Regions from separate parts of the Homo sapiens genome. Here region 2 is linked to region 1. A link means that fine-mapping ties the variant in region 1 to the expression of a gene that starts in the linked region. Tissue or cell type: left ventricle. Region 1 holds a variant in brackets; the other region holds the start of a gene. All regions are shown on one strand. Distances are from middle to middle.

Evidence for each region. PIP is the estimated chance that this variant, and not a neighbour inherited with it, causes the effect.
Region 2: it holds the start of CES1, and the variant in region 1 is fine-mapped to the expression of CES1 in left ventricle (GTEx, PIP 0.96).

Annotation. Positions count from the first base shown.
Region 1 is chr16:55,806,320-55,811,319 of GRCh38, forward strand. CES1 (carboxylesterase 1) reads right to left here. Exons shown (of 14, transcript NM_001025195.2): 10 at 4,608-4,691; 11 at 4,198-4,345; 12 at 14-145. Among named protein-coding and RNA genes, the nearest start is that of CES1, 24 kb to the right of the region's middle. The variant A/C (reference allele first, on the strand shown) is at 2,410.
Region 2 is chr16:55,830,378-55,835,377 of GRCh38, forward strand. CES1 (carboxylesterase 1) reads right to left here and starts at 2,719. Exons shown (of 14, transcript NM_001025195.2): 1 at 2,627-2,719. The coding sequence starts at 2,678.

The DNA.
Region 1 (5,000 bases):
GAAGGAGCATTACCTTTTAAAAATGGGGCCCCAAAGACGGAGAAGAGCTCATCCCCGTGGTCTCCTATCACCGTCTTGGGTTTCATGTCTGATGAGAAGCTTGGACGGTACTGAAACTCATACATGTAGGTGGGTGCTCCAGCATCTGAGAAGACAAGGATTCATGCACAGTTCATGTTGCCAGACACACACCTGGAGGCTACCAAGGTCTTCAGCTCTGCAGCAAACCTCTGGCTGTCAGCACAGTAGAGAAACAGAGTCTCAGGAAAGCTCAGTGATGCGCTCCGGGCTGCATAGCTGTCTGAGGTGGAAGCGGAATTAGAGCCAAATATTTGTTCAATGAACAAATGTTTAATGAATGAATGTGGAAACCCTGGGTCAATTCATTTAAAACAGCTGCCGGTGCAGGGACCCTGACTCTGCCTCGTAAACCCCTTTGCCTGCTGGTGCATTCTCACACAAGACAATCTCTCTACATCTGGTTACACCGGATATAATTCATTGATAACAGACTCGCGTTCATTCACTTGGATGCCATCTCCACCATGACAGGTGTCTTCTGTTCTGCCTCGTTTTGAGCATTTCCAGTGTTTTTCTCACCCATCCTGAGAAGACTGAAGCAAATCCAAGTTGCTTGTCTGAACATGAGGCTATTTAAATACAAACATATGCAGAGAGGGAACAATCTGCCTCTTGTGTCTCAGGAACCTGCGGCACTCACTGCTTTATAGCTCACTGTCCCCATGTGTCTTGCTGCCTGCCTGGCCTGGGAGTGTTAGGGTGTTAAGGCAGTAAAGCCCTGGCAGAGAAAAGAAGGCGCTGAGCAAGGGTGACCTTGCCTCTCCCCTGCCCTCTCTCCTTCGGCTCTGCCCTCCTCTCCCACCAACAAAGCTCTCCTGTCCCAGCCCCAGGAAGATGCCAGTTTCCCAATGATTGGCTCATTGGAGCCACAGATCGCTGCCCCTTCAGGGCTACCTCGTGGGCCGCCTGGCCCTGTGCCTCAGCACTTTGCACTGGTCATGATACCCACTGAGAAGTGACACTAAGACGGAAAGAGTCAGGGCAATGCCAGGCTGGTGGAGAAAATTTACAATGTCCTCCCCTTTGGGTACAGTAAGAAATTTGGAAAATAAAAACAATTAGGAATAATTAGAAGAAACAAAAATATGGAAACGCATAAAGCAAAACTAGATATCACTCATAATTCCACTACCTGAGGCAAGGGCCATGCATTTTTTGTATTTCCTTCTAAAATTTTTCCATATCCTATATAATTTAAAAATCAATTTTAACAATCAAATTTAAAGTATCACTCATAACTCTACCACTCAGAGAATGCTTCTTTTTTATTTTAGCATATCTCTCTTTTATGTATTTAACTGGGGATGATATTATATATGGTATTTTGTAGTACACTGTAATCACTTCCCTTTTAAATTGTTTTGTAGAGACAGGGTCTCACTATGTTGCCCAGGCTGATCTTGAAATCCTAGGCTCTCATAATCCTCCCACCTCAGCCTCCCAAAATGCTGAGAGTGTTGGCAAGAGCCACCGCCTCCAGCCATCATTTCTTAACATCATTAAAAATTCGTTCACAAAAGGATTTAACAATGGGAGCTCACGCATCCCTAACCTCATGCCCCACCCGCACATGTCATTTCAATGTGAGAATGAAGAATAATCTATTCACTCATCTTTGTCAGCCTCCTGCACTGCACCCTCGGCTCAGCAGGAAGCGCACCTGGGAAGATGCCATCCTTCTGTGGCTCTGTAATCCACCTGTTAAATGGCTGCTTCAAGGTCAAACAAAACTTGCTAAAAGGAGGGTTTGACCTTGCCTTTGCCCCTCGAACATTTTCCAAAGAAACTCAGAGCCAACCATAGAAGAAAGAGCTTTTGTGAATGATAGAACTTATTATAGGCAGCATGCTGCCCAAAACGTACTTTGTAAAACTCTTTGGCTAAAGCCATTGATATTTATACAATTCTTACAATCACAACACAAGTCTTCAGAGGAAAGTAGCGCACAGATTTGGGTAATGACAATTAGACATAATAAGAGAAGCAGAGACAATGAGAGGGCTAGTCATGGAGGACATGCAGATTAAAACAGGCTGATGTGCTTCTTGTTGGTGGGGAAGGCTTATGAAACTGGAAGTGTTATGCTAATTTTTAATCTTAGCATCCCAAATGAGAAAGAGAATTAAGAAATCCACATTCTTATGCAGTGGAATGCAATTTTACAATATTTGCCCAAAGTTCTAAAACATTTGCATTGTCCAACCTAGTTATTTACTTCTAAAAATAATCCTAAGAAAATTATTAGACATGTGTTTAGAGACTTATGAACATTAGGCTGAGCTCAATGTTATTGTAGCATCAGAATGTGAGTAGCCAGGCTAAACATCT[A/C]ATAGGATATGAATATTAAAGTCTATTTAACACAGCCATTTCATGGAATAAGGAATGCTTTGATGAGTTTGTATCAACATTGAGAAAATCCTCACAACATAGTGTTCTATGAACAAAAGTAAAATATAAAATTGATTTTTAAAGTATATAGGACATGGAAAATCTTTAGACGAAAACACAAAAAATTTATAGCACTTGCCTCCAGGTAGTGGAAATGAGTGATACATAGTTTCTTCTTTTTGTGTTTCCATATTTTTGAAAGTTTCTATAATTTAACATATTAATTTTATATTCAGAAATGTTATTTTATCAAAAAGAGTGAGACAACAATAAGTGAAAGTAGATAAAATCTGTGTAGTCCTGGCAAAAAAAAAAAAAAAAAAGCCCTGAACTTAAAGTCATGGGAAACCAGATGAAAAACATAAGTTCAGTATTGCTCAAACCATCAGAAAATGGAGATGGGAACTCTATATATAGTTCAGACGCAGAGCATAGGGCAAGGGCAAGTTTAAGAAAGAACAGATTCAACTCCAGTGGTCTTGGTTAAAGGTTTTTATCAGGACCCTGTGAAGAAATGAGGGTTATGAGCACCTGCCCCTTCCTGTGCAAAGGTGTGTCAGGGCACCTGCTAGTTAAGCGTTAGCTAGTTTTTATCATGCTTATGAAGTTCTAAATTTAAAAACCCTTCCAGCATGGTTAGAGAGAGGACATTTCCTAGCTTGCAGACTAGGCGAATGAGAGCTGGAAGAAAAGGAATCCTGTGAATCTCCTCTAGCTGGCACGCAGGAACAGACACTCCTCTCTAGGTGAGCACACACATCCCTAACGTCATGCCCCACCCACACAGCCTTGGGTCAGTGGTAGCAGGTCCTGCATAGACCCTGCCCTTGCCCTGTGCTTGCATGCTACTGCACGCACTGAGATGCATAAAAACCACCCTCAGACACTGCCATTCTACAGACCACCTCTCCCACACCCGCCCTGGCTCCTCTCTCTGGCCTTCTTGGTCCTGGACAATCCTCTGGATCCCATGCAGGGCTCCCACTTTTTATCCAGCTCCAATACTTAACAAACTTGTTTGCAGCTGGCTCAGACCTTAAAACCCTTCCACGACTCATCTTTCAATATTTGTCCTACAGCAGCCCTATGTCCCACAATAACTCCAGGCATGGAGCCCTTGCAGCAGATGCTGCCAGGGTCTCACCTATATCCCCTCTTCCTGGGCATGCCAGCCTGACTTCCACCTCCAGCATCTGCAGCTCCAGGCCTGAGGCCTTTGTCTGGTCACAAGAGACTACTCTGCCCTTGTGTGCAGCAGGTCGAAGTCACAGGGAATAAACAATTCCTTGCAAGAGCCTTCAACCAATGACAAGTAGAAGCTGGTGAATAAATACCCGGCTCCCTTGCCACTCAGATGGGATGCCCCTGAGCCCTGTATTCTTGGTGTTTCCTTGAGTTTCCCCGCTCCAGTTGTCCACAGTGGATACTCCCTTGACAACGCATCTTGGATTGGATTCCATCTCTTTCCTCTCTCACTTCCCCACCTCCCTACTGCTGTTATCTGGGATCATCACCTTAAAAAAACCACTTGCCTCTGGATTTTTTTTTCTCACAGTCTTCTGCTGGCATAAACCAAAATAAGACAGCACCTCATCCCATGCCATATGGAATCAGCCTTTGAGGCCTGACCCTCAGCTGTTTCCATGTCTGTCTATGCTGGGAGGTAGGTGGGTCAGATACAGAAGCTCGTGGGGTTTGTGTCCCTCCCGTTCGACCTCTGGGACTCACCTCTGTGGTTCCGGGCCACAATCACAGATGGGACACCAAACATCACATCTGCTATCAAGTCCAGGAACAGGTCTTTCTTTTTGACAGTGTCGTCTGTTCCTCCTAAGTATTTCTCAGTGGCTTCTGGAATCAGTTCCTTAGCAATGCACTGAAATAGATCAAAAAGTGACCACCAGCCCCGGGTGAGCGATGCAGCTTCTCCAGCCCACCAGAAAGTCCTGCCTCAATGGTGAACCCCATAAGCCCTGTGCAACTCCCCGCTAGGGTGGAAAATGAAGTGGGAAAGGTGGAAAGATGGGGGAAACCCTGAGGCCCCAGTCTTCATTCTGCCATTTAATTGCTCTATGATTTGGGCAAGTCCTTGTCCCTCTCTGGGTCTCAGCCAATTCCCATGATTCCTAGACTCTTACAACAAGGGGATAGGACTTCCACAGGAGTGACATGGCTGTCTTCTGGTCCAGTTGCCCTTCGGAGAGTGGATAGCTCATCAACTGCTAAAAAAAAAAAAAAGTTCAGCATTTATGAATCATTGGGAATTAATGATAAGAAACAAACTGACCAACCAACCAAACCAATGCAGTCTGAAAGTCCTCTAATTATGGGGGCTTTTAAGGGCATGAGTCTTTACTGAAATGGGTGAAATCAATGAATCAAATGGGCTTATATCCAGAAACTCAAGCATTGCAAAGTTTACAAAAAAAAAAAACAAAAAACAAAATTTCAGAGAAGCTGTGGCAGTGTTTTGCAGTGTGTGTGTGTGCGCGCGTGTGTGTGTGTGTGTCTGTGGCTGGGATCCCTACAGT
Region 2 (5,000 bases), 24 kb after region 1:
TTTCCACCTTTTCAGCACTGTATGGGATTTCCGGTCTTCACCTGAAATCCTCCCCCCCATCTTAATTATTTTAAAATTTTAAATAAAAAAAGAAAAAATATGTAGAAATATGATGATGTCTAAAAGGTATTTTGAAAGACTTGGAGACCAGGCACAGTGGATCACCTGTAATCCCAGCACTTTGGGAGGCCAAGGCAGGCAGATCATTTGAGGTCAGGAGTTCAAGACCAGCCTGGCCAACATGGTGAAACCCCCTCTCTACTGAAAATAGAAAAATTAGCTGGGTGTGGTAGCATGTGCCTGTAATCCTGGCTCCTCCAGAGAGAGAGAAGAAGGAAAGAAGGAAAGGAAAGATGGAAGGATGGAAGGAAGGAAGGAAAGAAGGAAGGAAGGAAAGAAGGAAGGAAGGAAGGAAGGAAGGAAGGAAGGAAGGAAGGAAGGAAGGCAGGCAGGCAGGCAGGCAGGCAGGCAAGTGGGAGTGAGGGAGGGAGGGAAAGAAAAGAAAGGAAAAGAAAAGACTTGGTCCCTGACCAGAGGTGGGGGAAATGGAAGGGAAAGAAGACCAAAGAGCTGGCTTGTAATGCTGGATCCCTGTTTACACAGGCTCGGTGGAGATGTGAGTGGGATATCCAGGCAAGATGATGCCACAGGATGAGCGCACTTCAAAGCTGGAAGGAAGCCTGGTGAGGGAGCAGGGCAGAATCTTCTCCTGGACTGTGAGGGTACATACGGTGGATGTGTATGGCTTCATTGAAGATGCCAGTGTGAGAGGGAAGAGAAAAAAAAACAAAGGTCAAACACAGGGACCACTACGGCCAAGACCAAAGATCCATCAGAATAGGGGAGAGAGAACGTTCCCATGTCTTTGAAGCCCAGGGAGCAAGAGGGCGAGGAACCAGCTAAGAGTGCTGAGGACTTCAGGGAGGTGGAGGAGAGTCAAGTCAGAGAAGAAACCACTGGGCTGGTCATGCTCAGCTCAGGGATTCCCTTCAACAGGATGAGGTGGATGGCAGCCAGATTGCCAAGGGTGAAAAAGTGGGTGAATGGGGGGAGGCAGAAACAAGTGTGAGAACAAGACCAGTTGCTGCTGATGTTATATGAAGCACGAACATGGTGGGCACCTACTATGTGCCAGGCATGCATTCCAGTTTTTTAAATTAATCTTCAAATAAGCCTTGCTGGGTAGGCATCAACATGCCCATTTTACAGAGGAGGAAACTGAGGAAGTGGAGGCAGCCTGTATGGTCTTCCTAAGGAAGGAAATGGATGGCATTGCCAGGAGTAACCAGAGGTAAAGGAACATTCAGTTCCAAATAGGCTTCCTCTCTTCTCTGCCCTTCCCCACAGTTCCAGAGCTCTCGCAGTGTCAGGCTGCCAGAAGGAAGACAGGATGCAGACGGGGCTGGGCTGTCAGGATTCAGGACCCAGAGACAGACCTAGGCGTGATTTTCGGGTTGACCCTGGGCAAGTACATTTCCCTGTGTGAGTCTCAGTTTCTCTGTCTATAAAATGGCATGGGGGTATTTCGAGGCCCCTCGCTGCACCCCTCTATGTACCATGTGTTTTGCTTTCTGTATTCTGATGCTCTGGCATCTGAGGCCTTGTTGACCTTGGAGAAACTCCCTCCCAGGGTCCAGCCACCCCAGAGCCCACACCCCAACTGCCTCTTTGATCGGGTTGCCATGCCCTGGCCACTACCCACCTGCCCTAATCATGCCAGGGCTAGGTACAAAACAATTAGGAACAGCCCCTGTGCCCCAGAGCCCCTGAAGTATCCCAACTTGCCAGTCCTCAGCCTGCCTGCCCTGCCTTTCCTCTTCTATCCTTGGAAGCCACAGTAAAAGCCCCTTGGCCTCAGATCCGCCCTGTCCCCTCCCCAGGCTCTGCTGCTTCCCCTTGTGCCCCGCGCACTGGTGTCCCCCTCCTGTTGAGAACATGAGTAAGAAACTGTCTTTTTAATGGCAAGAGGTCCTGATATAGTGGCCTGACCACAGCTCAAATTTTCTATTCATACACTACGTTTTTAAACAGCGCCTTTATTTATCCATCCCTTTTTCGTGCTTTCTACATACCAGGCGCTGCCAAGAGTGCTTTAGAAACAGCCACCCATTTCCTCCTCACCAAAGCCCAGTGAGGTAGGCAGCACTGCCACCTCTGTTTCAGAGAGGGGGTAACCCAAGCACGGAATAGCGCAGTCCCTTGCCTAAGGACACACAGCGAGGAAGCGCCCAGCGGGGACTCGAACCCACGCACTCTGGCTCCAGAGTCGATGCTCTTAATATTATGTTGAGCCGCTCTCCGTGATCCAGCCGTAAGGGGACTAATTAAGGGACAGCAAACTGAGCTGCCTAAATTTCTCGTGTGTGCGGCCTGAGGTGGGCCGGCTGTCGGCCTGCATTTGGGCGAGCAGTACAGGGCGATCTCAGGATGTTCACCCTCCCTGCGTCTCCGCGCGGGCCAGGCTGGCCGGGCTCAGCTGCTCCAAGTCCAAGTCCTAATATGGAAGTCGTGCCCCGCCGCAGAGCCGGACCTGTTGTGTCTTTGCCTTTCTACGCATCTGCGCCCACCTCGGCCCAGAACAAGGATTTCAAAAAGTGCCCCGCATTTTGATTTCAGAAGGACTCACCCCAAGCCGCGGAAGCAGAGAGAGTGGCCAGGATAAAGGCACGGAGCCACATCGTGGAAGGGCGACAGTTCTCGGGGCCTGCGAGGTCTCTGTGCAGTTCAGAGGGACTGTGCTGTCCAGCCCTGGAGCCCAGCCCCGCCCAGAGTTACCGCCCTGCGCTGCCAATTGCCTAATCCTCTAATTGGGAGAGATCAGAAAAGCCCTCCCTTTCCTCAGATCTCCCTGGGCTTCTAGTGGGGCCTCAGGCCACGCCCACCCACAGTTTACCCTCTTTCATCAAACCAGTCTGGACTCTACTGTCAGATTACAGAGAGCTGTAAACTTGCCCAACTACTTGTTACATAAGGGTTCACCCTTGCAGGACTCTAACCTCAGTGCACTGTGACGGCCCCCAAGGGCCCACACCAGCAGGCAGATGCTTTTAGGCAAAGGGAAGCTTTGATCTGAGGTCCTCAGAAACAACTGGAAAATGTTAGAGCCACTCACACCTCACAGCTCAGCTGGGTAAGTTAGGACATATCTCAGCTCCCAGGGCTTGTGTTTTCATAGCTTTCCAGGCTCTCAAGCTTGGAAGCGATCTTAAATTTCATCGAGTCCCCTTTCTGAGGCCTGAATTAGCTTCACAATATCCTGCCAACTGGTCCAGCCTCCTGTCACACACCATCGGTGTCAGAGAACTCACTACTTTCCAAAGCAGGGATTTTTGGACAGAATGTAAAAATGAACTCCGTCCCCCCATAGTCCCTGGCTGTTATCATCCATCCATCCAAGTACCCATCCATTTTGTGAACATTTACCAAAATGCTTGGCACCTGGCCATGTATAATGGATACAAAGACCAATTCAAGACATGGTTCAGCTTCTCAAGGGGCTCACCATTGTAGACAAGACAGATGGGGTGGAGGAGCAGTAGGGGTGATGTCAAGGCAATGTGAAATCACCAAATTAAGGGGATACAGAGTGCTCTGGGCACACCTGGAAAACTGTCATTTACAAGCTGCTGGGGACACAAGGAAGTCACTCAAAGCCTCTTTCATGGGATTATTAAATGTCCAACAATAGGGAATTCACTAAACACACTGTGGTACCGCTGGCTAAGGAAATACGATGTATTCACTCAAAATAGTGATGTGCACAGCTATTTATTAACAATGAAGACAGGATGCGTTGTGAAAGGAGAAAATAATAGGTTATAAACTGTTGTGCGGTGTAGGCAGTTCCTCAAAAAGTTCAACACAGAGTTTCCATATGACCCAGCAATTCCCCTCCTAGGTGTCTACCGAAGAGAACTGAAAGCATGTCCACACAAAAGCTTGTACACAAAGAGCAGTGTCATTCATCCTAGTCAAAAAGTGGGCACAACCCGCATGTCCATGACCTGATGAATGTGTAAATGAAGTGTGGTGTATGCGTGCAGAGGCATATCATCCAGCCATAAGAAGAACATGCTACAACGTGGATGAAGCTGGAAAACATCATGGTAAAGGAAAGAAGCCAGCCACAAAAGGCCACATGTCGTATGATGCTTTTTATATGTAATTTCCAAAATAGTCAAATCCATGGAGACAGAAAGTGTTTGACAGGGTCTGGGGAAGGGGAAAGAGACGGGGATGAGGAGTGACTGCTAATGGGCATGAGTTTTATCTTGGGGGTGGTAAAAATGTCCTGGGATTAAATAGTGATGATGTTAGTGCAACTTTGGGAATATACTAAACACCACTAGATTGTACACTTTAAAAAGGTAAACTTTATGACATGTGACTTATATTTCAATAAAATAATGAAATATTTTTGAAAATCTAGATAGGTATAATATGGTCCCGTTTTGGTAGTAACATATGTCTTTATTTGCATAGGAAAATACTGGAAGTCTATATATCTAATTAGAATTACAACAGCCATTTCCTGGCTGTAATCTTGTCAGTGTTTCACTTATTTGCATTTTCCACTTTTATTCCTTCATACATTCATTGACAAATATTTACTGAGAGCTTACTGTGTGGCAAACACTATGCCGAGAGTTTTGTATGCAGGATCTCAGTTCTCAAAATAACCCCGTGAGATTAATGCTGTCTCACGATCTTAAATTGATTTCTGTTGTTTAAGCCACCCAGTCTGTGATATTTTCTTCTGGCAGCCTAAGTAGACTAATACATAGGCTCAACTCAATTCCGTTATTTATTCCCAAAAGAAACTAAGGCCCAGAGATGAGGAGGGATTGCCTAAGGTCACACAGCAACTCAATGGCAAAGTCAGAACCAGAACTTGAGGCTTCTGCCTTCCAGCACAGGGTGGCTGGCAGCCATTTCTCTTGCTTTTATACATCAGGAAGATATTCTAATCAGTAGCCTTATCTAAGGCAAATTGCCTTGTC